3 linked regions of the Homo sapiens genome follow. The protein of the gene in region 1 purifies or fractionates together with the protein of each later gene. This does not show direct contact. Each region holds a gene or a part of one and is shown on either strand. Other genes may lie near its edges.

Evidence for each region. Proteins that work in one complex are often made in the same cells at the same time.
Region 2: the proteins of ZPLD1 (region 1) and STEAP2 purify together in Homo sapiens (affinity purification with mass spectrometry; 2 studies listed by BioGRID and IntAct, with this or other methods). This does not show direct contact.
Region 3: the proteins of ZPLD1 (region 1) and CEACAM8 purify together in Homo sapiens (affinity purification with mass spectrometry; 2 studies listed by BioGRID and IntAct, with this or other methods). This does not show direct contact.

Annotation. Positions count from the first base shown.
Region 1 is NC_000003.12:102,472,999-102,480,035, reverse strand, and holds the end of ZPLD1 (zona pellucida-like domain-containing protein 1 isoform 2 precursor), read right to left. Parts: intron 3,025-7,037; coding exon 2,995-3,024; intron 2,594-2,994; coding exon 2,418-2,593; 3' UTR 195-2,417; downstream 1-194. UniProt on the Homo sapiens protein: Glycoprotein which is a component of the gelatinous extracellular matrix in the cupulae of the vestibular organ.
Region 2 is NC_000007.14:90,207,743-90,214,772, reverse strand, and holds the start of STEAP2 (metalloreductase STEAP2), read right to left. Parts: upstream 3,034-7,030; 5' UTR 2,728-3,033; intron 2,498-2,727; exon of another isoform or gene 2,437-2,497; intron 2,417-2,436; exon of another isoform or gene 2,314-2,416; intron 954-2,313; exon of another isoform or gene 913-953; intron 1-912. UniProt on the Homo sapiens protein: Integral membrane protein that functions as a NADPH-dependent ferric-chelate reductase, using NADPH from one side of the membrane to reduce a Fe(3+) chelate that is bound on the other side of the membrane.
Region 3 is NC_000019.10:42,584,892-42,591,928, forward strand, and holds part of CEACAM8 (cell adhesion molecule CEACAM8 precursor), read right to left. Parts: intron 4,845-7,037; coding exon 4,566-4,844; intron 4,148-4,565; coding exon 3,893-4,147; intron 3,514-3,892; coding exon of another isoform or gene 3,224-3,513; exon of another isoform or gene 3,025-3,223; intron 1-3,024. UniProt on the Homo sapiens protein: Cell surface glycoprotein that plays a role in cell adhesion in a calcium-independent manner. Mediates heterophilic cell adhesion with other carcinoembryonic antigen-related cell adhesion molecules, such as CEACAM6.

The sequences.
Region 1 (7,037 bases):
TTATGTCTCAAAAAACTTATCATAAATAAAAAAAATCACAGGTCAACAATGCATTTAATGGCCTGATAAACCCATCTTAAAGTCAAAAATTGTAAATGTAACCATCATAAGTTGGAGACCCTCTGTATTTGTGAAAGTAAGAATAGGATGTTGAGAGCAGGAAGGAGAAAATTAAAAAAAAAACAAAACAGGTAAACATTTTAAACAATTATTTTATTAAACGATCATCTTTTACATGTCATCAGACCTTACCCCTGAAGTGCAAAAAACAGTTTGAGGTATTAAAACTGAAGAAACATTTGCACATATTTTGTAAGGTTTTTCACACTATAATAACTGTAAAATTCAGTATAACTAAATACTCCATATAACTGCAGATTTATAAGAACAAAGTTGTAAAAAACAGACCTGGTTTATCTCATTATAACTCTGATTCTTCCATTTATGATGAAAGGGTGGCAAAAAATAATGTGATACTTACGTTGCTTCCCAAGTGACATGTGTCCATTATTCAATTCTATAAAATGGAGTATAGAATTGAAAAGGCCAACAGCTGAAACAGCAGCCGTTCCAAAAGCATAAAAATCAAATTGACAAAACAGCTTAAATGATATAATGTCCTATTCACAGAACTTAATCGTAGAATCAATGGCAATTCACTTAAAGTATCTGAAATAGATTTACCAGCATATTTCAATACTATCCATGTATATACAGGGTCACATTAGTAGTATGGTCAGTTAATCATGTTAACACAGATAAAGCTCAGAATAGTCACTTCAAAGTTATTTTAAAGTAACACAGGGAAGAGTAGATTGGCTTTTTATGTGATTTAAACTTTTTTTGTAAAGAAATTATCCAGAGACTTTCCAGATCCCACTTTACTTGGCAACTATACCTTGAAATAAAAAGTTGATGCAATTATATAGCTAATTATTATAATATAAACACTTCCTCCTGAAATATTCAGGCAAATTGGAGAAAAAGTGTTTTTCAACTTGAGGATTGATTTAATTATTAACTCACATTGTAGACATTTCCTTTGAAGCAATTGCTTGATGATTTGCATGCAGTATAGTAAATTAAGTCCGGACTAATGGGTCACAAATGTTGAATAGAAATTAGTGATTACAGCAATTGCTTATAGTTAACATGGCAATTCTAGTAACTTCACATGCTGGGTTTTGGTGTTGGCTATTAAATTGTTTTGTTTGTTCAGTGCATAGGTAGCTTAAACAAAGAGAATGTTGATTTTTTTTGTAAGAACATGGGCTGCTTAAAGCTTGCTTTTTTGCAAAACTGATAAAGGATCAGAAGCTTCTTGCAGTTTACTGTTAGAGGAAAATATTGTTTATTCATGGCAATTATGACACCTACAAGAAGATACCTTAAAAAGAAACCCTCTCCTGATTATTGCCTGGCATCGAAAATATGGGGGAAGGAATATCTTTTTATGTAGATTCCAACAATGTTCTGCAAACTACACTTAACCTAAGTTTCCTTTTTGTTTTAGGAAAAAGGGAATCTAAATTGTTAAAAACCCTTCTAGGAACTCTTTTCACAACTACAGCTTGTTTTCACATGTGATGATTCTTGAATTAAAAATAATCTTTGCATAGTTACCTCACTGCTGGAAGCACAGCTGCAACAGCAGCTGAACTGTTTACCTGGGAGGAGAGTTAACATGTGCTGGTGTTCTCACCTGAACCAGAAGAAGAAAACTGATCGCAGCCATTCCTATTCTAATGAATAATGATCTAGGGCCACTTAGCAGTAGCCTTGGAAGCTAACAACTATTTTCACTATCTTCTACACAAAAGGGTGCCCCAGGTTAAGAGATATGTCCCAAGAGTTTCTTTTAAAATGAATATGGTCAGACATGAAAATCGGCCAAAAACACAGGAGGTCATAGAATGAGTAGTTAAATCTCAGGTATCCAAATTGGCCAGTCCTATTAAAACACATCCTGAAGCTGGGAATATCCGGATTAAAACAAAAAGCAACATTTATTCTAGGACCACGTGTGCAAATCTAAATGCCATTAATGCTTAAGGGGGAAATGCAACACATTTCATTTTTTGTCTACTCCCACCTTTTATCTTTTAACCAACAATCAAAAGAAAACTGAAATAAAATGAAATATTACTGATCCTGTAAGCCCTAAGTCCTGAATATTTTTCACTTATTGTCAATATATTCACTGGTGGCATAAAAATACGGCTCGCCACGTACATAAGTGACAATAGCAATATAATAAACTTCTTTCACTATCATTATGCTGACAAGCTATACTGTGAAATTTATCAAACCTACAAATATTGAATGTGGACTGACATGAAATTCAGACGGAACACTGACTGCAGTCACACATAGTTTAGTCAGTGAAGCCTTCTCCAGAGAGCAGGAATCTGTTATAGTCAGTCAAAGACTGGGTTTCTTATGCCATTCAACACTAAACTTGTGGGTCCCTTCCTGTGCAGAAGGGCCAGTGAGCACAGAAGAAGAGAAAAGCTCGTAACTCCCAGAATGACCATTCCTGATATCAGTGCGCTGGTGATGGCGTTCAGCTGGAAGGGAGGCATACTTGGAGAACCTGCAAATAATAAAACACACCCGGTTGTAAAGGCCCCATATAATATTTATCTCACCTTGACCCAATTTTACCTGCAAAACATCTTTCATCAGCATCTCATAGAATAGCAGCATGGCACTGAATTGTGTTACAATCTATTTGACTGTAATTCAACCCAATACCAAAGGATTGTATGGTTTAGAGGCTGCCCATGGGCAGCCAAAATCAAAAATACCAAAAAGCTATCAAATGCTATAAAAATTGACCAATAGATCACATATGAGTTTGAAAACCCTCAGTGAACTGTTATCTAAAATGGACCAAACTTGGAAAACTCAAGCTCATTACACTTAGATGATTACAGCTTTGTAACTGATCACCAAAAATGTAAAAAACATTGCAAAATATGTTAATTATCTTACCAAGTTGCGAATTGTTGGTTGGAGTCTCATCTGAGGGGAAAAAACAGAAAAAGAGAAGTGACATCATCTCTCCAAATATTTACCTTTGTTTATTCTGATTAATAATTACATTGTACCTACATTTTTACCTGTTATCTCCTCTTACGTCCACCCATAATCTCCTTGAGTAAGGCAAAAATGAAAGTCCCCCTAAACCATTCTGCTTGTCCATGCCCTGTTTCATATGTCCTGGATTTCATCATCTTTCTATTCCCCAAGCCCACATCCTACCCCTGCCCTAGGTATACAAATGTAATAGAAAAAAATATACAGTGTGCTGTTTTCTTGCCTGACAACTTTGTTTCATCATTAGCTCTCCAGTCAGGCTGGTGGGGGCAGTAATCGTTAACAGCTATTACATTTTTTATGGCCCTATAACCTGCTATTTGTTATTCTGTTATACGGAATATTCATTATTTAGTGCCACTCTATTTTAAGTATTGCCAATTTGCCCAACGTAATCTGCAAACACATCATTTTAAGTTCCAAGAAGATAAATTTACACTTAATAACTATATGAAAGGAAAACATGACTCCTGAGCCTGAGTTGTAGTTTTATTTGCATCTGTTAAGTAAAAGATTGAAGCTGTTGATTTTTGACTTTTCCCTGCCAAACACAATAATAGATGCGATAAACATATTACTTGATTTCCCAATTTTTGTTGTCCAATTTGTCATCATGTTGCTATCAACCCTGGAGCTTGTACGAGCTCATATTTCATATTTGAAATAAGAGTAATTTCATATTTGTGTTTTAATATTTGTGTTTGTTATTTGAACCATATAATGCGTGCAATTGACTGTTTATTTCTGGAATATAAATATTATTACAATCAATATGTGTATAAAACCACATAGTTCATAAACTGCTGTTTCATATATTATCACATTTCATCCTCACAGAAGCCATATGGTTTGGATATTATTGCTACCCCCATTTTACAGATAAAGAAATTTCCATCTGTCACAGCCTTTATGACAGAGTAAACATGTGCTTAAAACAAAGCTCAGTTTCAGAGGCCTTTTTCTAAAATAATATAAACTGACCAATATGAAAAATATTTCTGGTTATGAAGATGAATATCTCAAGCTATGAATCTCTAGGATTAGTATTTTAAGCAAGTAATGGGAGAACCTGGTGAGATATTTATAAAATATCTGACACCATTTTTTTTCAGACACATGAATCTTGGCAGAAACGATGGTTCTGCTGTCTGATTCTGAAGTACAATGCTCAAAATTAATACAGCACTCATTCATAGGGTTCTTTAGAATGGTGCAATGCATCGCTATAGGACAAAAAGAAAAATAACACACATTTTTATTATACAACATTCAGAAAAATCCTAACCTCTAACCAACACTACTTTATAATAACACTTCCTTCTCATGGAAACAGGTGGGATGAATGGACTATGATCAATTCTTCCAAAATATCCATGTGCTCTTTTCCCAAGATGAGCTGCCTCACTGGAACATAGGAGGAGAATATATAATGCTAAAAATTTATTTTTGAAAGCTATTCTTTTTTTTAGAAATCACACTTAATTGCTTTAAAATATTTCAACTAAAAAATAGAAAGTTCCTTTCTAATAAGTGTTTCAAATAAGACAAGAGTGCTATGACTAGATGCCCTTTCTGCTATTTTCTGCATCCTAAGGTTAACAAAAGTCAGACTGTCCCCTGCACTCCCCGTATTACCACCAACACTTCCATAGAAACAGTATCTCAGTTGTCATTAATGAGGACTTCGCTGTGGACAAAAATCTCCGTGTGTGGGGAAAAGACACACCCTTTTCCAAATAAGACTGGAACGACAAAATCCAGGTTCCAGGACTCTGAAAAAATGAAAGCATACTACCTTTGGCAGGTGGTTGAAATCGAAACCTGTGATATTTGAATACTATTTGGAATTGTATTTGACAGTGAATAAAGGTAGAGAGAATTGCTTTATCTAGTTGCTATTTCTGGTAGCCTCCAATTTTTGTATTATTGCAAAGAAAACAAACAAACAAAAAAAATCAAAGCACTGTATAGCCTTGAAAGGGAAGGTAGACATTTTTTCAGGAGACTTTTATCCCACCACACTTTTTTATTCCTTGAACCCACTTGGTCTTGACATGTACATATATGCTAAAAGAAACACCTGAAGCCTTCTGGAATTAGAACTGATTGGAATACCAAACTTTTGGGGCTCTCCAAGAGTATATTTATCTATTTGAAAGCCTATAGGAGAAAGGTGATAGCAGCAATGCCACAGCCATTTGAAAGCCAGAAGTGGCAGACAAATTGTCATTCTCTGCTTTCTCATGTAAGTAGTTGAAATAATAATTTTAAAAATGACCACCAAAGATACATGCAGAATAATTTTTTTCTCTTAGTACTAGAAAAGTTTTTTTTTTAAAAAACTTTAATAACCTATGTAGTAAAATGGACCACACATCTCAAATTAATAAGCACCGACCTTTTTACTTTTCACAGTGTTACGTTCGTTCATAGTCTGTTTCTACCTCTGAACTCTAAGATCCCTGAGGACAAAGTCTGTGGCCTGTTCTCTACTATACTCCCAGTTCCTAGACGAGTGCCAGTCCCAAGAAGGGACAAACAAGTATGCTCAAATGAATTATTAACTACTCATAAAACTCAGCAATTCTAATCGAACAAGAATACGGCTTGGGTTTCTCCACAGGAATTTAAGTAAACAAAACAATTAGGTATTGTTTTCTGGTGTTGGTGCCTTTAGATTTCCAGAATTGTACTCTTTGATTAGCATTTCCCTATCCAAGCACTTTCAGCATTTTGAAGTTTTAAATAAGAACACTTCAGGAAATTTTTCTTGAGGGGTTGCATTATGAGGGTGTGAAGATTTTCCTAAGTCAAGTAACAAAACTATTAACTATGTTGGGTAAAAAATATCCAGAATGGATTTGATTTCATTAAAAAGCAAAACAAAACAGGAGTTCTCAGGTTTAACAACTTACTGAACTCTACCTAAGCTAGATGTCTAGGGAAAAGGAGTGGTTCAATGAGCAAATAGAGCAAAACTTCCAAGCATCAGAGAGCTTTGAAGAGAGCAAATCAAGCCTGAAATTGGATTTATCTATATAAAATTGGCCACAGGACCTGAAGAGATAAATTCTAGCTGACCTAAGGTAAAAATAAAGTGAAACTAAGGAAAAAAGGTAGTTCTGGTCATGAAGTTGAACATGAAGTTTGCACAGGATTTGCATGTGGATGGATATGGCTTGAGTTCTGAGTTCTGTGTTCATGTGGAATTTTTAAAAATATATATTTTCATGGATATCATAGTATTACAATGTAAACATCTTTATATGTATATGTTCCTTTAGGCAGTGAGACCACCATGATGATCAAAGAAGACCACGCCAAAATTGTATTTATCAAAATTATTTAAAAATAATTCGAGAGAGAATGAGAGAGGATTCAAGGGGACCCTGAAAGCATGAGTGTGCTCCTCTGGGGGCTCTGCTGGTGGAGAAACCTGAGGTGACCCTGAGAAAACTCTAGCATGTTGGGCAATAAGTGACATTCTTGAGGTGGAAACTGGTTGAAAATTGGAAAGAAATCCAGGCATGACATCAGAGGCATTGTGATAGCTCTTTGTGGTGTTAACATAGATATTTTGGGCAACTGGATGTGGGATGGATGAAACCTATAAACCTGGAGAGCTGGTTACTTATGTTAGAATTAGAGACTTCTACTTATTTATCTTTACTGGGATTTCGGGGGTCTTAGAATTTTTTTTGTATATTTAAAGATTATTTTACACTAACGATACGGTTTGCGTCCCCACCCAAATCTCATCTTGAATTATAGCTTCCATAATACCCACATGTTGTGGGAGGTAATTGAATCATGGGGATGGGTTTTTTTCCCATGCTGTTCTCATAATAGTGAATAAATCTCACAAGATCTCATGGTTTTATAAAGGGCGATTCCTCTGCACATGCCCTCTTGCCTGCCACCATTTAAGATACGACTTT
Region 2 (7,030 bases), on another chromosome or scaffold:
AATTCTAAACAGCAAAAGAAATCTGATCCGTTGACCTCTACCTCTCTAATTGCTTAATATCCTGCACTCTCCTTCAGCCTGCTCTGGTTTCTCTTTAAACCGAGGCTAGATTTGTAGTCACTCCCTTAAAAAGATCCTCAGCTCTCTTACTCTCCATCATATCTGCTTGGCAAAACTCTAGTCCTGGACCCAGCTATCCATTTTCTCTGTATCTGTATCCACGTTGGTGAAGGTTGCTGGAGAAAAACCAGAAAACTGAGCTCATTAGTTTCACCTTAAATTAACAATCACCAATTTTACCTATCAAAGACCAGTCTATCCACTTATGTCCTGGAGAGCCTCCCTTTTTGCTTCCCAAGGGGATATGGTTATGACCTCTTTCTGTGACATCTCAAACTTCACAGGTTCAAACCTGAACTTTTTCCACCCAGAGCTGGTCCCATTCGCCTGGAAATGTGTAAATGCCACCATTATCCACCAGTTGCTCCAATCAGAAAATTGGGAGTCATTCTTAAGTCCTTGCTGACCCTCACTTTTGACATAAAATCCTGCACCAATTCCTGTTCTCCAACATATTTCATAAATCCCTCTCCACCAATACCAGGCTAGTCCAGGTGTCTATCATCTCACCTGAACTCTGCAAACATTTCCTAATGGGTCAGCCTACTTTCTCTTTTGACCCTTTCCAAACATCTCCACAGCAGCTAAAATCATCTTAAAATGTAAATCGTCATAAAATGTCTCTCCTTAAAATCGGTGCTCCTTGTACTTAGAACTACAGCCATCTTCCTGACTATCACGTAAAAGGTCCTGAATGAGTTAGTCCCCGCTTCCCCTCTCTAACCTTATCTGTATATTGTCCACCCACAGCATTCTCTTCTAGAAAGAGAAAACAACAACCACTTTATGTACCTTGGGAGCTTTCCATATACTGTTCCATCTCTATAGCAGAATAATTCACTCAGCCCTTGTTAAATTTATTTTGTAATATTTTATATAATTGTTTCTTTACTGTTTACTATTTCCCCCATTGGACAATAAACTGCACGAGGGAAGAACCATGTTTGTCTTGTCCGTGATCACTGCCTCCACATTGGCTGGCAGTGTAACTAAGGATGCAATAAAAATTCTTTGTTATGGAATACATCAAAAAAATTCAGGACAAAAAGACATGTAATAATTCTCTAGATCAGATTTCTCTTTTTGCTGAAAACACATGTGGGCCCTTAAGGGGTAGGTGATTTATCAATGTTATTGTTATGTTAATGTCTCAGTTACCTCAATGTCCTGGTTTCTGGCCCAGCAGGGATAAATACATCTCCTGATGTCCTATGTCCTTTATCACGCCTGCAGTCTTACTCTTTCACATTTTTGGTGTATCTTCTTTCTCACTTTTCTAACTCATTTACAATCCTTTCTTTAAAAATTTGTCTTCACCTGTCCTGTTTTTTCAGTACTAAAATACAACTATGTTCATTCACCACATTTTCCATAGCACCAGTACAATAAAAAGTGACTTGGATAAAGCTTTTCATTTCCTTACTGCACAATTTGCTCAAGTTGTCATTCTCAATATTGTCTCATTTCCCCATACCCTGACAGAGTGACTAGCTAAGAGGCAGAGAGTGCAGCCATCCCAATGGCAGCACACATAGTTACTCTTTATGTTTCTAAACATCCTGCAAATTATTTAGGACGGGTGTTTTGTTTTGTTTTGTTTTGCTTTTCCATTAAATAGCCTCTAAGCTTTGAAGCAACCAAGAGAGAATCGGAGTAAAAAAATTATAGGGTTAAAGAAAGAAAAAATAAACAGATCAATAAAATGAAGAAATAATAAAGTGGAGAAAAGGAAGGATGGGGAGGTGGTTTAGAAAACAAAAAGGGTTCCAAGCAGCGGGGCTGTTAAAAGGACCAGAATCTAAGTCAGGAGGTTGGGGGTGGGGGTGGGGGTGGGGCAGGAGTCTGAATTCTTTTTCTCCTATACTGATGAGCGATAATTAACTATGGCCTGGACTGTCTTTCCATCTAAAAAACTAACTGCCCGAGGAGTAAAAACTGACACCAATCCTTCTCCACGGGGTGGGAGAGATAATAAATGGAAATCTTCCAACAAAAATGCTCTTTATCTCTCTGCTCTATTTTAAGAGCAAGATTTTTAGGGCATAATTTTCAACAAGTTTTGGCTGAGGCTGAACACAGGGTTCAAAGATAATTTAGGACAGTCAAAGAAGAGGCCAATTACTTTCTAACAGAAATGGCCTAAACACCACGATTACATTACTGGGAAATAAACCAAATGACTGCTAGAAATACCTGTTCGCAAAGCAGCACTGCATGATCTTCCATGAAATGCCCTGCATCAACCCAAAGTAGCAGGGAGACTATCAAGGGGGCGAAAGTAACCTGCCTGTCCTTTCCTGCTGGGACACATCCTACCTGGGACAATGTCTCCTTGCCTTCTTTCTCCTGGGCCCAACCTCAGGACTTGCCCTTAGCTCTAGGAACCAAGAGGAGGAGGAGGGGGAATCAGTGGAACAGACACCCTTCTCCACCCTTCTCACTTTCCACCTTAAGGTGCCAGGAGATGAGGGACCCCGCAGCTCAGGGCGGACGCCCGGTGAGGGCGCAGAATCGGGGAGGATGGATGCAGCGCGTGGCGCAGACTGCATCTTGACCCTCAACTCCGCCGCCGCTACCTTCTTTCGCGCTCCTCCCCGACCCGCTCACCTCCGCGCCCCCCGCGCCCTCCACGCCGGGCAGGGGCGAGCCTTGCAGCTCCCCGGGAGCGGCGCCGACTCCCCAAGGGCCCACCCGGGGGCCAGGGCCTACGGACTGCACCTCCGACTGGCGGTTGCAGGGTGGCTGCCGCGGCGGTCGCACTCCAGCTGCTTCCCCGCCTACCCAAGCTGGATCGCGAACAGCCAGGGGAGAAGGAAGGAGGGAGGCGCGCGGAGGCCGGCTTGGCAGCGACGCGCCGCTAGGGGCTGCGTGCCCGGACAGCTCGTGGCGCCGAGGGCCCGAGGAACGCTGACTGGAGTCGGGAAGAGCCGTGGAGCGCGGGGAGGAGTCGGGGAGCTCGGAGGGGGCGGGGGTGTGTGAAGGGAGCCGGGCTGTGTGGAGGGAGCTGGGAAGGGCCCAGAGCACCGAGGGGGAGCCAGCAGTGAGTGCACTGGGGAGCTCCACACACGCGGCTCCGCAGCTTTGCGCGCCCTTCTACCGCGAGCGGCTGAGTATCCGCCTGGCTCCCCTGCGGGGTTCCTCCGTGGTCTTCCGGAGATTCTTTCTGAAGCAGCTTTAGAATAGTCAAGCCTATTTTTCTACTCCATTTCTTTTTGTAATGTGGGGTCACCTTTCCGCTCTAGAAATTGCTTTTCTTACGCGATTCCCACCCCAACTCTCGCCAAGGGCCCTGGTTCTCATCTCCCCAGTCTTAGCTTCTGACAAGCCTCCAAGAAACTGCGCTTTTTTCTTTTGTAAGTGTTCTTTTGCCTCATGTTTACCCTATCCCAAACGTCTTTTGACTAGACTGTGTCCTTGGAATAAAATGTTCGGAAATGCCCTTTCATGAAAACTCCCTCGGATAGGAGGACCCTCACAGACCCTGGACTGCAGAGATTATTCTGTTGACTTTGACCTTCACTCTAGCTGGTGCCGCGCGAGCTTTGGTGTGGGGGAAAGGAAGGTTAGGCCGTGAGTCAGGAGACCTGTGTTCCTGCGAAAGCCATTTACCTTCTGGGGCCGCAATGGCTTTGAATGTTTCAGGGGATCCCCTGAGAGCACCTTTGGCTCTGGGTTTCTGTAAATTTTCTCCCTGCGGATTACCAAGTAAAAGTACCTTTTATCTTTTGTGTAGAAGGTGTCAGTAGAAGAAGCAAGAGATCTTTATTCCCAAATATAAAATCAACTTACCAAAAATTCTCAAATTTGGGGAAATTTTTTTCATACATTAGTAAAGTACCATTTCAACAAATTAAGTTTAAAAATTATCCCTCTAGGTGGTTTATTAACCAGACCAAAAAAACCCAACAACAACAACAACGAGAGGGGGGTCTTAGATCGATCACTGGGGCACTGCACTTTCCCCTTTGTAGTCCATACACAGATTAACCTTTGTAAATGCTGCTTTGGAAATACATCCTTTGTTTGACTTGAAATGTAACCCCTCCCCTACCGCCAAATATTATTAAGGTTTAAAGTTTAGGCAGAAGCTAAGGTTTTAACGATGTGTCAGGGTGTGGAACCATCGACAGCTGGTAGAATACTTTCCATTTTGGTTACTGGAAACAAGTCATTAAATCTAATATCAATTTTAATAATTTCACTTCAACAAAACTGTCAAATAATGAGATTCGTGGAGTTTTTTCTAGTAGTTCCTCTGGAGAACTTGTGGAGAAAATTCATGAATCTTAGCAGTTAACGGAAAGTATATTGCTTTTCCATATATTTTAAAAAACTATAGAATTATATAACTTCCCCACGGGGATATTAAAAGAAATTGCACTTTCTAACTTCTATAACCATAAATTATCATGTAAAACATGTAGGTAAGCCATATATTTTAAATATGTTTAAAAGCTCTCTTAACATGGGCTTTGACTATTGAGAAAATAGATAAAGTAATGTGAAATCCCTTTTCCTAAATGAGAATCAGTGAGTCAACAATTTGCAGCTTCCAAAAGGGATATCTCTTTTTCATGCTTGAACTATTAAAATAAACAAATATCTTTGATGGGAAATCTAATGTTACCAAATGTGTTCCAGAAGACTGTTGGTGTTAATGCAAAGCATGATTCCTTTAACTTCCATGGTAACTAATTTTATCATTGTTTTTCAGCTGGAGATGCAGAGTATGAAAATGATTTTGCAAGACTTTTCCAGGTCATGAGGTGCTCTCTGAGAAATCTCTTCTGTTCCCTAAAGTAGTAAGTGACTCAACTGAAGCGAAGCAATAATTATTAAATGGATCTCTAGTGGCCTAGGGGCATTAACACATTTTTTTCCTTTGAAGTTATTATACAATTAAATAACTTTAGAGTGGTAGTTCCCAAAATGTGTGACTTTAGGCACTAGTTTGCCTAAATGCTGCTCTAGCAAGTCATTCACTTCAAAAATATTGAGCCACTTCTATATGCCCTGGCTGGCACTCTAGGAACAGTGGTGAAGAAGACAGATATATTTACCTGTCCTGATAGAAGTTACAGTTTGGTGAAAACGATAAATTAGTAACAAGTGCAAATAAGATTTATGCAGATTTATTTACACAAAATAAATGTAAGTCGTGATGTAAATAGTAGATTTTGAGATAAACAATAAGAGAAATCTCTTCATTTTAGAGATCCACAATGTATGTTAATAAATTAAAGGCTCTGAAAATTCCTATGGTAAAAACATTTTACCTAACCTATTCCCCAAACCCCCAAATTTGTTTTGAACAAATTTGTTTGTAAGCAGTGCTTATAATAAAATAGAATAATTTTTGTGAAATGCTGCTTTGTTTTAAAACCAAAGAATTCAATAAACATGAAATTCTGTTAACATCACCTTACATTTATTTGTCAATGTACATTAATATACATCAATAGATTTATACATGTAAATATAATCTGAAGTAGACTGTGTTTGCACATGTTTATACCAGCGCAATTCACAATTGCAAAAAATATGGAACCAGCCTAAATGTCCATCAACCAACGAGTGGATAAAGAAAATATAGTATATATATACCACAGAATACTACTCAGCCATAAAAAGGAACAAAATAATGGCATTCTCAGCAACCTGGATGGAATTAGAGATGATTATTCTAAGTGAAATAACTCAGAGTGGAAAACCAAACATATGTTCTCATTCATAAGCTGGAGCTAAGCTATGAGGACACAAAGGCATCAGAATGATATAGTGGAGTCTGGGGGCTCCAGGGGGAAGTGGGGTGAGGGGTAAAATACTACGTATTGAGTACAGTGTACACTGCTCTGGTGATGGGTACACCAAAATCTCAGAAATTACTGCAAAAGAATTTGTTCATGTCACAAAAAGCCACCTGTTCCTCAGAAACTATTGAAATAAAAAATAAATTGTTTAAGTATGATTAAAAAAAGAAATACGCTGTGTTTGAACACAAAATGATACACAAGGATTTATAAATCTATTAAAATGCTTGAATGTACATCTGTACAAAACACATATTTATAATTAACATTATTTCATAAACATATTTCCAGAGATCAACATGTTCTAAAGTCTTATAATTCTTAATGGCTATATAGTTTATATATTGGTATAGACTAGTTTTTCCTTCCTTCCTTCCTTCCTTCCTTCCTTCCTTCCTTCCTTCCTTCCTTCCTTCCTTCCTTCCTTCCCTCCCTCCCTCCCTCCCTCCCTCCCTCCCTCCCTCCCTTCCTTCCTTCCTTCCTTCCTTCCTTTCTCTTTTTTTTCAGGGTCTGAATCTGTAATCCAGGCTAGAGTGCAGTGGCATGGTCAAGGCTCACTGCAGCCTCAACCTCCTGAGCTCAAGTGAGTCTCCTGCCTCAGCCTCCCAGAAGCTGGACTACAGGCAGGCACACGCCACCACACCCAGCTAATTATTTATTACTTGTAGAGAGGGGATCTCCCTAGGTTGCCCAGGCTGGTCTTAAATGCCTAGGCTCAAGTGATCTTCCCACATCACCCATCCCTCTCACAGTGTGCTGGGATTACATGTGTGAGCCACTGTGTTTGGCCTAGAATAGTTTTCTTAACCCTAAATTTTAGGAAAGTACATTTTCTGATTCTTTAACTATTATAAGTAACACTGCTTTAACCTCCTTGAACAAATTACTCTTTGGAGTAATAAGTGATGGGAATATTTTCTTGGGATATATTTTTTAATGTGGGTTTTTTAATTAAAAGAAATTTTATTTTTTCTGTTTACATAGTCTCATATTTCTTTCCATAACAATTGAAAAATCATTATAAAAATATGGATGTACTTTTATCTTTTAGATTCAGTATCTCATTGACACTGAATTTTATTATTTGTATTTGTTTAAGT
Region 3 (7,037 bases), on another chromosome or scaffold:
ATCAATGAAACCAAAAGTTGGTTCTTCAAAATAAGATCAACAAAATTGCCAACCATTAACTAGACTGACTAAGAAAAAAAGAGACAAGATGGAAATTACTAAAATCAGAAATGAAAATGGACTCCCAGCATGGTGGCTTACACCTTCAATCCCAGCACTTTGGGAAGGCAAATTGGGAGGATTGCTTGAGGCCTGGAGTTTGAAACCAGCTGGGGCAACATAGGGAGACCCTGTCTCTACAAAATTAAAACAAAAATTCAGCTGGGCATGATGGTATGCACCTGTAGTTTCAGCTACCTGGGAAGCTGAGTTGGGAGGATTGCTTGAGCCCAGGAGGTTGAGGCTGCAGTGAGTTTTGATCGCACCTCTGCACTCCAGCCTGGGCTGACCTAAGGAGTGAGACTCGTCTTTCTCTCTCTCTCAAAAAAAAAAAAAAAACAAACAAAAAAAAAACGAAAGAAAGAAAAGAAAATGGAGATATTATATATCAATTCTAGAGAAATATTGTTTACAAAAGTACTATGAATAATTGTATGCCAATAAATTGGATAGCCTAGATGAAATGGACAAATTCCAAGAAACACACACAAAAAATCTGAATAGACCTATAATTAGTAGGAAGATTGAATAAAAATTTCATTTGACAAAATTCAACATTCTTTCTTAATAAAAACATGCTAAGTATGAATGGAAGGAAACTATCTCAATATAATAAAGGCAGTATGTGAAAAGCCCAAGGCTAACATCATACTCAATAGAGAAAGACTGAAAGCTTTCCCCCTATGATCAGGAACAAGACAAGGATGCCTGCTTTTGCCACGTCTATTTAACATAGTATTACAAGTCCTAGCCAGAGAAATTAGGCAAGAAAAAAAGAAGACTTTCAGATTGGAAAGAAGAAGTAAAATTATCTGTCTGTTCACAGACAACTTGAACTTCTTTGTAGAAAACTCTAAGGATGAAAAAAACCTGTTAGAATTTATTAATAAATTCAGTAATGTTGCAGGATACAAAATCAGCATGCAAACATCAGTTGCATTTCTATACACTAACAATGAACAATCTAAAAAGGAAATTAAGAAAAAAATTTTAATTCACATTAACATCAAAAAGAATAAAATACTTAGGCATAAGTTTAACCAAGGAGGTGAAAGGATTGTATTCTGAAAACTAGAAAACATTGCTGAAGGAAATTAAATACGACCTCAAAAAATGGGAAGACATTTTGTTTTCATGGATTGGAAGACACGGTATTGTTAGGAGGATAATACCACCCAAAGTGAGCTATGGATTCAACACAATTTCTATCAGAATTCCAATGACATTTTTTTGCAGAAATAGAAAAATCTATCCTAAAGTTCATATGGAATTTCAGGACTCAAAATAGCCAACCAATCATGAAAAAAGGAACCTTGAAAAAAAAATGCTGAATCCTGATTTCAGCATTTACTACAAAGCCACAGTAATCAATACAATGCAGTACTTGCGTAAAGGAAGACAGAAACCAGCGGAATAGAACAGAAAGCCCAGAAAGGAATGCTTGCATATATGGCCAAATGATATTTGATAAGGATGCCAATACCACTCAATGGGGAAAGTGCAGTCTTTTCAGCAAATGATTTTGGGAAAGCTGGAAATCCATGCAGAAAGATGAGCTGAACCTTTACCTGACACCATATACAAAAAACTAACCCACAGTAGATCAAAGACCAAATGTAAGAGTAAAAACTATAAAACTCTCAGAAGAAAACACAGGGAAAAAAACTCCATGACATTGGATTTCACAGTGGTTTCTTGGTTATAACAACAAAAGCATAGGCAACAAAAGAAAAAATGGGTAAGTTGGACTTCATGAAAATCAATAACTTTTATATATCAAAGAACATTGTCGAGGAAGTGAAAAGGCAACCTTGAAGTGGGAAAAATATTTGTAAATCATGTATGATAAGGGATCAATTTTCAGAGTATATGAAGAACTACTACAAATCCACAACAGCAAAAATCCAAAAACCCAACTAAAAAAGGACAAAAGACTGAAATAGAGATTTCTCCAAGGAAGATATACAAATGGCCAATGAGCACATGCAAAGATGCTCAACATCACTGATACTTAGAGATATGCAAATCAGAACCCCAATGATAGAATACCTCAAACACATTAGGATGGCTTTGATTAAAAAAAAACCACACACACACAAACAACAAGTGTTTTTAAGGAAGTGGAAAAATTGGAGCTCTAGTGCATTGCTGATGGAAGTGTGAAATGTTATAGCCACTGTGGAAAACAGTATGGCTGTTTCTCAAACAATTAAACAAAGAATTACCATTGGATCCAGCAATTCCACTTCTGGACATATATGCAAGAGAATTGGAAGGGATTTGAACAGATATTTGTACACTGATGTTCACAGCAGCATTAGTCACACAATAGCCAAAAGGTGGAAACAACTGCAAAGTCCATTGAAAGATAAGTGGATAGAAAAGTGAGGTGTATCCATACAATGGAATGTTCTTCAATCTTAACAAGGAAGAAAATTCTGATACATGGTGCAAAATGGATGAACCTTAAAAACATTATGTTAAGTGAAACAAGCCAGACACAAAAGGCCACCTATTATATAATTCCATTTATATAAGGTTGTTAGAATAATCAATTACATAGAGACAGAAAGTAGAATGGAGGTTGCCAGGGGTTAGAGGGAGAAGGAGTGAGAGTTACTCTTTATTGGGCAGAGAAGTTTATTTAATATGGTAAGATGAAAAAGTTCTGGAAATGGATGGTGGTGATGGTTACATAACACTAAATTGCACGCATAGAAATAGTTAATGGTGGCTGGGAGTGGTGGCTCATGCCTGTAATCCCAGCACTTTGAGAAGCCAAGGCGGGTGGATCACCTGAGTTCGGGAGTTCGAGACCAGCCTGATCAACATGGAGAAACCCCATCTCTACTAAAAATACAAAATTAGCTGGGCGTGTTGGCACATGCCTGTAATCCAGCTACTTGGGAGGCTGAGGCAGGAGAATTGCTTGAACCCAGGAGGCGGAGGGTGAGCCGAGATAGTGCCATTGCACTCCAGCCTGGGCAACTGGCACTACCCCTTCCCTCTCATGCAGAGACCCTGTGGCTGAATCTCCCTGTGTCTCCAAGTGTGCATCACTCACTGTCCTCTGTGTTGTATCCACAGCCTCATGCAGCCCGTGACTTCAGAGCTAGGACACTGCTCAGGAGTCTTCCCGGAGGCTCCCTGTCTTCCCATTTTTGTGCAGCCTGACTGGGGGGAGGCTTGGCTTCAACTGGCAACTTGATTTAGCCAGATTTGGGATAGGCCACCTGAGCACCTTTTCCATACACCTGGGTCCCACCCCAGGTGGAGTCAGGGCAGGGCCTGTCACCAGGGAGCTGGGAGCAGAGATGGGAGCAGTCTGAGCTGCTCCTCCGTCATCCAAGGGGCTCCTCCTCCCATTTGGGGAACGTTGTGGGCTTGTTTCAAAGCCTTGGATGTTTCTTGCAGCTAATGGCATAGGTAAAAGAAAACAAAGGGGTAACAGAAACAGGGGTGCCATGTGTTGGTGACAAAGAAAAGCAACTTGACCTTGAGGACCCTCCTTCTTCCCCCTTGGTGAAGTCCTTTCCATGACATAGGGCTCTGGGGCTGACGAAGGCCCCTCTCCACGTTTCTCAGGTCAGCCCCGAGGTCAGCCAAGAGAAATCAGAAAAACAGGCAGAAGAGAGTCTATAGAGATAAACTGGGAGGGTTTAGGAGAAAAGTTGGGGATTTGCTTGTGCTGTTGGACACAGGCTGGGAATAAAACTTTTTTTCTGGCTCATCTCTGAAAGCCAGATAGACTCTACCAGAAAACATACTGCCAGTGCTCCAGGGATCCACTTACCAGAGACTGTGATCATCCTGACTGTGGTCCTGTTGCGGCCAGTGGCTGAGTTAGTGGTGTGGCAGGCATAGGATCCGCTGTTCTTTGTAGTGATGTTGGGGATAAAGAGCTTTTGTGTGTATTGCTGGAATGTGCCATTGACAGACCAAGAATACTGTGAGGGTGGATTAGAGGCCGCATGGCAGGAGAGGTTGAGATTTACCCCTGCATGGTAATAGGTGTCTGAAGGGGAAATGGTGGGGGCATCTGGGCCATCTAGAGCAAAAGAATAAAGTCACAGGTGATGTCATCAGAGGGAAGGGGAAGCTCCTGGTCTGTGGAAGAGCCACAGTGTCCCTCTGAGCCAAGTCACAAACCTGAGCCAAGTCCCAACCAACCCCAACCAAACCCCCGCTGTTTCTACTGAGACAGAGTCCGAGACATTTACCTGTTTCTCCCATCAGAAGATGTGGACTCCAAGTCTCCCATGACAGGAGCACCCCCTCCCCTCTTATTCTTGGTCAAGGCTAGGCCTACCCATGTTTGCCTGGGGCAGAAAGTCATGACGAGCTGGGTTTCTAGGGGTGGGTGGGGAATCTGCATTTTTGGAGCTGAGAGGGACTGAGAGGCCTGGCCTCTGGCTGCGTGGATTTGGGCTGGTGGCCTGGGCCACAGAGGAACAGAAGATACTCACAGAGGACATTCAGGGTGACTGGGTCACTGAAGTTTGCACTCGCTGGGTTCTGTATTTCACATTCATAGGGTCCTACGTCATTCCTTGTGACACTGAGTAGAGTGAGGGTCCTGTTGCCATTGGACAGCTGCAGCCTGGGACTGACCGGGAGACTCTGACCATTTACCCACCACAGGTAGGTTGTGTTCTGAGTCTCAGGTTCACAGGTGAAGGCCACAGCATCCTTGTCCTCCACGGGGTTGGAGTTGTTGCTGGAGATGGAGGGCTTGGGAGTCTCCGCTGTGCAGAAAACAGAGAGAAGATTGCCCTGTGTGGCACCTTTGATTCCTCCACAGGCAAATTTCAATTAGAGTTGGCATCTCCCACCTCTCAGCCTACTCGAGTCCTTAAAAGCCCACGGTGGGTGTGTGTGTCACAAGACAGATGCACAATGATCGGGGCTCAGAGACCATGAGGCCGCCTTCTCTGTGTGGGAGAAACACAGACTTTCTCAAATGTGAATTGGGCAGCAGCGCTGGGTTGTGGACAGACCCAGGACTGGGAGTTACAGATCCTGGTGCCTCTTCTGGTCCCTCCCTGACCGGCTGCCTGCCTGGCCTACCTAGGGGTCCTCACCTGGAACATGTAGGTGCTGGGTCCCTTCCAGCTTCACAGTCCTACTTTGCCCTTCGAGGTGTGTTTTTGAGGGTTCTGTTTCCAAGAACATTCTAGAGATGGGAGATGATGGGACATGCCACTATCCTTAATTCCTGACTGGGTGTTTCAACAGAAATAACACAGGGGAGGCCGGGGCAAGCCTGGAGGTCGGTTCCGTCGTCAGGCAGTGGAGCCACAAGGTGGGGCAGTTTTTCCCAGGTGTTTCATCGTGACTTACTTGAGTCAGTGACCTCTAAAGATAGAGCAGAGTCCAAGGAATGATCTAGAAGGAGTGAAGGGGACAGGCAAGAACAGGTGGCTTTGGAGCAGAACCTTGTTTCCTTTCCTTGGTTTTTAATGTCCCTTCTTTCCCTGCGGGGGGCAGATGAGGAGCTGTGGATCCTCCCATAAATACATGTGGACATTTGCAAATGCAAACTGACGGGTGGGGAGGGGGAGCCTGAAGTGCTGGAAATTTGGCCCTCATGGACCGTGGGTGTTTGACAGTTATGAGAGAGAAATTTGGGAAGAAGTTTTGCAAATATTTTCTCCTACTGGACATTATACAGAGTGAAATAAGCCACTGACAGGACAGATACTGTAGGATTCCACTTACATGAGGTTCCTAGGGTAGTCACACTCATGGAATCACGTAGTAGAATGGTGGTTGCTATGGGCTGGGAGTGGGGGGAATGGAGAGTTGTTCATGGGTCTGCAGTTTCAGTTACACAGGATGAGGAGGTTCTAGAGATCTGCTGTACAGCTTTGTGCCTATAGCTCATATACAGTGAGTATTTCTTATGCATAAGGCTTAGGGCCAAAAGTGTTTTGAATTTCTAACTTTTATAAATTTTTGAACATTTGCAGTATACTTACTGGTTTAGCATCTCAAATCTGAAAATCCCAAATCCAAAATGCTCCAGTGAGCATTTCTTTTGAGAATCACGTTAGTGGCCAAAAAATGTGGAATTTTGGAGCATTTCAGATTTGGGATTTTTGATGGTCAATGTGTAACTCTAATTTGCATTTTAAAATTTGTCAGGAGTTTAGATATTATGTTTTGACTATAGTCAAAAACAAAATTGGAGGAAACATGAATTTTTTTCCATAAGTAGAAATTGCTATTAATTGTCCACAGATCTAAAATCAATTGGTGGAAGGAGTATTTCTCTTGATAACAAAATAAGGTTTAGGCGTCCTGTGAATTCCAGCAGGATCACATTATGCTCAAAGGAAGATCCTGAAGTTCGCTTGAAATTAGCAACTCCCAGGTAGAGGGAGGCACGTGAGTCCTGTTAAGAGGACAGAACCGGTCAGAGAGGAAGTCTTAGGTGTGTCAATTCCATAAAGGGAGGAACAATGCCAAATTAGGAGAAGCGATGTGTGTTATGTTAGTAAATTTAGAAAGCTTCCTGCCCCTAATTCCTATGCAGAGTTAGGCAAAATTGGGAGGAGCCCAAAACAGGTATGCGCAATGCTTTCTTCATTTTCTCTTGACCTCGGGAGACACAAGTAGAATTGGATTAGGTTTTTGCGAATTGGACAGAGTCTAAGTGAGACGCCAGTGGCTCATGCGTCTCCCCACCTGAAGGACCCCATCTTATCACAATGGTGCCATCATGAGGACACAGATGTGTGTGGAACAGGCAGTAAGCCCATCAGACAGCACCTGCCTGGCCATCCAGGATCTAGTCTCTAAAGAGGTTTTGCATCATTCATTCTCTCATTCATTCCCTCTCCATGAGAGAACGATCGAGTGTGTGTCACATGTTGGGCCTGTCCTGGTGCAGGGTGTGAGTGGGGAGAGAAAGCAAAGTCCTCTCTTTTGTCCTCCCA